2 linked regions of the Homo sapiens genome follow. The protein of the gene in region 1 purifies or fractionates together with the protein of each later gene. This does not show direct contact. Each region holds a gene or a part of one and is shown on either strand. Other genes may lie near its edges.

Region 1 (3,855 bases):
AAGAAAAACTACAAAACACTGGTGTAAGAAATCGCAGATGACACAATCAAATGGAAACACATCCCATTCTCATGGATGGGTAGAATCAATATTGTGAAAATGGCCATCTACCAAAAGCAATCTATAACTTCAATGCAATTCCCATCAAAATACCACCATAATTCTTCACAGAACTAGAAAAAACAATCCTAATATTCATATGGAACAAAAAAAAGAGCCTACATAGCCAAAGCAAGACTAAGCAAAAAGAACAAATCTGGAGGCATCACATTACCTGACTTTGAACGATACTACAAGGCTATAGTTACCAGAACAGCATGGTACTGGTATAAAAACAGACAGGTAGACCAATGGAAGGAGAGAACACAGAAATAAAGCCAAATACTTACAGCCAACTGATCTTTGATAAAGGAAACAAAAATGTAAAGTGAGGAAAGAACACCCTATGCAACAAATGGTGCTGGCATCATTGACAAGCCACATGTAGAAGAATGAAACTGGATCCTCATCTCTCACCTTACACAAAAATCAACTCAAGATGGATCAAAGACATAAATCTGAGACCTAAAACCATATAAACCCTGGAATATACTTTAAAAAACTCTTCTAGACATTGGTTGGCTTAGGCAGAGTTCATGACCAAGAACCCAAAGCAAATGCAACAAAAACAATAATAAATAGATGGGTCTGAATTAAATTTAAAAGCTTCTGCACAGCAAAAGAAATAATCAGCAGAGTAAACAGACAACCCACAGAGTGGGAGAAAATATTCACAGACTATGCATCTGACATGGGACCAGTATCCAGAATCAACAAAGTACTCAAACAAATCATCAGGAAAAAACAATCACATCAAAAAGTGGGCAAAGGACATGAATAGAATATTTTCAAAAGAAGATACACAAATTGCCAGCAAACATGTAAACGTGCTCATCACTATCAAGGAAATTCAAATCAAAACCACAATGCGATACCACCTTACTCCTGCAAGAATGGTCATAATTAAAAAAACAAAAAATAATAGATGTTGGCATGAATGTGGTGTAAAGGGAACAGTTTTACACTGCTGGTGGGAATGTAAACTATTACAACCACTATGAAAACAGTATGGAGATTCCTTAAAGAACTAAAAGTAGAACTACCATTTCATCCAGCAATCCCACTACTGGGTATCTACCCAGAGGAAAAGAAGTCATTATATGAAAAAGACACTTGCACAAACGTGTTTATAGCAGCACAACTCATGATTGCAAAACTATGGAACCAGCCCAAATGCCCATCAATTAAGGGGTGGATAAAGAAAATGTGATACATACGCATGTGTGTGTGTGTGTGTGTGTACACTATGGAATACTACTCAGCCATAAAAAGGAACAAAATAATGGCATTCACAGCAACCTAGATGGAGTTGGAGACCATTATTCTAAGTAACTCAGGAATGGAAAACCAAACATTGTATGTTCTCACTTATCAGTGGGAGCTAAGCTATGAGGACGCAAAGGCCTAAGCATAATATAATAGATTCTGGGGATTCAGTGGAAGAGTGAGAGTGGGGTGATGGATAAAGTACTACACACTGGGTTCAGTGTACACTGCTCTGGCAACGAGTGCACCAAAATCTCGGAAATTACTACTAAAGAAGTTACTCATGTAACCAAACACCACCTGGTCCCCAAAACTACTGAAATTTTTTTAAAAATGAAAAACCCAGCTATTCATTTAATAAAATCAAACTTTACAGAATTATCTAAGTAAAAATAAAAAGTTTTACCATTTTCTTTATTTTTTCAGAAATTACTTCTGTTGAGTATTTGGTGACACTTTCTAGATCTTTTCTATGTATAAGTACACTCATAGACACATAAATAAATACATTAAAATCACACACGTGCATGGGATCACAATAACATACTGGTCTACAACCTGCTTTTTCCCCTTAGCTATATATTATGGGCATCTTTCTGTGGTATTACTTAAAAATCTACATCACTAACTTTTAAAACTCATCTTTATTAAAGCATAATTTACACACAATAAAGTATAACTTTTACATTTACAACTTGATAATTTTGGAAATATATTACCTGATTTTATTTTATTTTATTTTGAGTCAGAGTTTCACTCTTGTTGCCCAGGCTGGAGTGCAATGGCGCGATCTTGGCTCAGCACAACCTCCGCCATCCGGGTTGAAGCGATTCTCCTGCCTCAGCCTCCTGAATAGCTGGGATTACAGGCATGCACGACCATACCCGGCTAATTTTGTATTTTCAGTAGAGACAGGGTTTCTCCATCAGGCTGGTCTTGAACTCCCAACCTCAGGTGATCTGCCCGCCTCGGCCTCCCAAAGTGCTGGGATTACAGGCGAGAGCCACCATGCCCCACTTACCTGATTATTCTTAACAATGACAAAGTATTCCATTGTATAGATATGCTATAATACATTTAAGCATTTTCCCATTAATGGATGTTTGGGATGTTGTTGTTTCTTAAATGTCAAGTGATGCTGCATTAAGTAATTCTGTAGATATATTTTTGTATATTTACACATGCATTTCTTAGGATAAATTCTTAGACATGGAATTTCTGGGATGAAGTATACAAACATTTTAAGTAATAACATATAATGTCAAATTGTTCTTCTAAAAGACTGGACCTTTTAAAATACAAAAGTACAGGCAACAAAAGCAAATATTAGACAAATGGGATTACATCAAGCTGAAAAGAATTTGCACAGCAAAGGAAACAATTAACAGAGTAAAAAGACAACTTATAGAATGGGAGAAAATATTTGCAAAGTTTATGTCTGACAAGGTGTTAACATCCAGAATATATAAAGAGCTTAACAGGAAAAAACCAAACAAGCTGATTAAAAAATGGGCAAAAGACTTTAACAGACATTTCTCTAAAGAAGACATAAAAATGGACAACAGGTACATGAAAAAAATGGTCAATATCACTAATTATTGGGGAAATACAATTAAAACGCCAATGAAGTATAACCTCACTCCAGTTAGAATGACTGTTATCAAAAAGTCAGAAGAAAACAAGTGCTGGTTAAGTTGTGGAGAGGAAGGAACCCTTACATTGCTGGTGGCATTGTAAATTAGTACAGCCACCACAAGAAACAGCATGGAAGTTTCTCAATAAAATAAAAATAGAGCTACCATATTATCTATCAATTTCACTGCTGGGTGGATATTCAAAGGAAATAAAGTCGCTATGTTAAAGAGATATCTGCACTCTCAAGTTTATTGCAGCCCTGTTCACAATAGCCAAGATATAGAAGCAATCTAAGTGTCCCCCAGCAGATGAATAGATAAATAAAATGTGGAATATATGCACAATGGAATAGTATTCAGCCATAAAAAATAATGAAATCCTGTGATTTGCAGCAATATAAAAAGACCTGGAGGATATCATATTTAATGAAATTATCCAGGCACAGAGAGACTGATACTGCATGATTTCACTCATATTTTGAATCTAAAAAAATACAAAGTTGATACTATAGAAGCAGAGAATAGAACTGTGGTTATCAGAGACTGGGGAGGGGAGAGGGAAGAGGAGGATAGGGAGAAGTTGGTCAATGGGTATAAAGTTATAATTTGACAGGAGGAATAAATTCTGTTCTATTGGTGATGATGGTTAATGGTCAGTTATAATATATTACAAAAAAGCTAGAAGAGAGGCTTTTGAATGTTTTTATTCCAAAGAAATGATAAATGCATGAGATGATGGGTACATTAAATATCCTAATTTGATCGTTATATACCATGTATGTATATCAAAATATCAAACTGTGCTTCCATAAATATATACAATTACAATGTGTCAATTAAGACGAAAAGGTTGAAC
Region 2 (3,500 bases), on another chromosome or scaffold:
AACTCATCATTTAACTCATTAATTTCTTGCCTTTGTAACAGGATGTTTGCCCTAGAATTGGTCATCAGGGTCCCAAACTTCAGGACAAAGATACGTTAACTATTCCACACTATCAGGAAGTCACCAAACAAGTGGGGCTTGCCATCTACCTCAGAAAGTAGAATCAGCCCTGCCAACCCCACAAACCACAGCCACCCCCTTCCAGAAGGCTGAGCTAGTGAGAGGCAGGGAAATTTGCTGGAACCATGGTTTGGCCTACTGGGTAATGTAGTGGCTTTTTCCTCCCCTCTTCTTGGTGCATGCTACTCCTTCTTAAAGGCTTATGGTGTCCTCAAGGAAAGACTGGGGGGCATTCTTTTCCCCTCCTCAGCGTGAGCAGTTATAGGTATGTGTACTTAAGCAGAGAAGAGAATGGGAAAGGGAGAGCCAGACAGACAGGGTGGCTGTAAGCTGTATACATTCCCATCAGTGGATCTGGTATGGGTACATGAGTTTCCAAGGTCAAGCGGCCATAGCAGAGGAGGCCTCTGCATCCCTGGGGACCTGAAGAAGTGTAAGGAAGCTAGGCTGAAGCCAGACATCCTACATCAGAGGGCCAGATTTGGACCCTGCCAGAGAGAATTAGTGGAGTTAATAATCGAGTTAATAAAAGAGATGTTTGCCCTTTTCCATGCCCTTCCTTCTTTTCTCCAACGTATTTGAAGAAGTAGTCTTTAACAAAAAGAGGGAGGAGGTTTCTCAGAGTCGAGCCAAACATTTCCCCCCAAATTCCTCAAAGTGCTAGCTTCAGAGAAAGAGTAAAAGAACAGATGGGTTTTCTCTAACTGCTACTGCAGGCCTCTCCTACTGCAGGGAGAGGACATGACATTTGAATTGGATATAACATTTTGAACTGCACAGATGTTTAATTGTTGTTCACTGATGTATTCTCAGCACTCAGAATAATGCCTAGCATATGTTAGGTATTTAATTAAAAGAATATTAAAAGAATGAGTGAACTGAAAGTTATGGGCTCTTACCGAAATGGCACTAAGAGAAACAAGAGGGAGAGCTGGTGGAGAATGATTTAAAACAATGACTGGGGCAAAATAAAACCATTTTATGTTAATTGCTCCACTGAATTGAAACTTTTAAAAAACTTTATTAATTCTTGTTGTTCTGCAAAGGAGATGTGGCAGATTTAAATAATAATTTCTTAGATGTTAAAGCAAAAACTTTTCTGGGTGTCAGGTATTGGTATTTAATTGGATAGAACAAAATGAATAGCACAATGTTAAAAAGATGTCAGAGCATGGTGGTTGAAGGCTCAGGCTCTGGTGTGAGGTAGACCTATGTTTGAATTCTAATTCCATCAATTACTGTCTGTTTTGTATTTGGGCAAATTAATTAACCTTTTTAGACCTCAGTTTTCTCATCAGTAATACAGGACTAATAATACTTCCTAATTCATAAGGATTGAATGAAATAAATGCCAGCAAACAATTTACCACAGACAGTGTCTGTCAGAAAAGTATTCAATTAAACTTAGCTATTTTGTTTTATGTATGTATGTATGTATGTATGTGAAACAGGGTCTCACTCAGATTGCCTACGCTGGAGTGTAGGCAATCTCCCTTAGCTTGGGTGATTCTGCCGCCTCAGACTCCCGAGTAGCTGAGACAACAGCTGTGTGCCATCATGCCCAACTAATTTTTTTTTTTTTTTTTTTGTATTTTTAGCAGAGATAGGGTTTCACCATGTTGGCCAGGCTGGTCTCAAACTCCTGAGCTCAAGCGATCCACCTACCTCAGCTTTCCAAAGTGTTGGGATTACAGACGTGAGCCACTGCATCTGGCCAGCTATTTTGTTTTAAAAAAGAACCAATAGGCAGCCCACATGGCCAAATGGAAGCAAAATAGCTTCTGGTGTCAGATCTGGCTCTACAGTGTATAGATTGTTAGCTATTTGATTTGGGGGCAAGTTCTATAACGAATCAACTTCAAGTTTTTTCAACTATTTATATGACATAATATGTGTATTCCACCTATAAACACCAGGACACTGCTGGCATTCAATTTCATTGTTTCTTCTCTAGGATGTCACACAAATGTCATTTTAAAGAGATTGGAGACAGTCACAGGATAGCTGAGTAAAGAAGAATCATTCTGAATCCTTACTCTCCATGTGTGACTGTCCATGATGATTATCTAAAGGGTCCTCTGAGCAGATATCAGAAAGGAGTGGAGCAAGGCAGATGAGAAGACACCAGCCTGTGATTCAGGAGAAGTGGTGTGAAGATAGGAGGCTGAGATTTGTCTCCCAGGTGTGAACAGGATGTGAGGAGTCTATTCCCAGGATACACTACAGACCACACAGGGCCAGGAGGGCTGATCACCAGAGGTCCAGAAGACTGTCTATAGTGCCAGGAAAGCCAAAAATCTCTTCATGATATAAAAATGTCCAGAAATATTCTTTGAGATTGGTGCTAACCCATGACATTTCTAGTTCCATAAGAGATTCAACTAGTATTTTGACAATAATCCTAACAGTTATTAAATTTGTGGTTGCAAAACAAAATATTCAGAAATATCTCCTATATGTTACTTTTGTTAACTACAAAATATAATCTAGACAAGAAGTACTTTTCTTCTTTTTGGGGCCATCTGGTAGTGAACGTTTGTGGTATTGTATTTATTCCTCTTGCTAAGATACATGACTCATTCTATTTAATCCTATTCAAAAAGTATTTACTAATTTTCTGCTTTGTGCCTAGCATGGTGCTAGATACTACTGAAGTTTTAAAAGAAGTATATGGAAGACTCTCTGTCTTTAAAAAAGATAATCTACAGGCCAGGCGCGGTGGCTCATGCCTATAATCCCAGCACTTTGGGAGGCCGAGTCAGGCTGATCACAAGGTCAAGAGATCGAGACCAGTCTGGCCAACATGGTGAAACCCCGTCTCTACTAAAAATACAAAAATTAGCTGGGCGTATTGGCATTGTGCCTGTAATCCCAGATACTTGGGAGGCTGAGGCAGGAGTATTGCTTGAACCAGGGAGTTGGAGGTTGCAGTGGGCCAAGATCACACCACTACACTCCAGCTTGGCAACAGAGCGAGACTCCGTCTCAAAAAAAAAAGATAATCTACAATTTAGTTATAAAGGCAACACCTAATCTTTTACAATAGGAAGCTCTCAGGAGTGTATCATAACCAGAAATAAAATTAAATGTCAAAGTGTGTAATAAAGACAGTCATGGCTACGGAGAAAGATCAAGATGAGCTAGACTTGTCACAAAAAGATTCCAGGATGTGGTGGTATTTAAGCAGTACCCTAAAGGAGAAGCTTAGATCATTGGAGAATAATTCTCAGGTCTTTCCAGACAGGATAAGAGATAAAGCAGTTACACAGGCATACATATGCATGGTGTGTTTGAAGGCTATGGGATGAGGGAGAATGAAAAGAATGTCAAGCTTCTAAGCTTTGCTGCCTGCTTGGAAAGGGGGTATCACTAATAAAAAT

The links. Proteins that work in one complex are often made in the same cells at the same time.
Region 2: the proteins of FCRL5 (region 1) and ME1 purify together in Homo sapiens (affinity purification with mass spectrometry; one large-scale study listed by BioGRID and IntAct). This does not show direct contact.

The regions. Positions count from the first base shown.
Region 1 is NC_000001.11:157,528,277-157,532,131, forward strand, and holds part of FCRL5 (Fc receptor-like protein 5 isoform 1 precursor), read right to left. Parts: exon of another isoform or gene 3,688-3,855; intron 1-3,687. UniProt on the Homo sapiens protein: Plays an important role in B-cell response to antigen that acts both as a negative or positive coreceptor.
Region 2 is NC_000006.12:83,218,052-83,221,551, forward strand, and holds part of ME1 (NADP-dependent malic enzyme), read right to left. Parts: intron 1-3,500. UniProt on the Homo sapiens protein: Catalyzes the oxidative decarboxylation of (S)-malate in the presence of NADP(+) and divalent metal ions, and decarboxylation of oxaloacetate.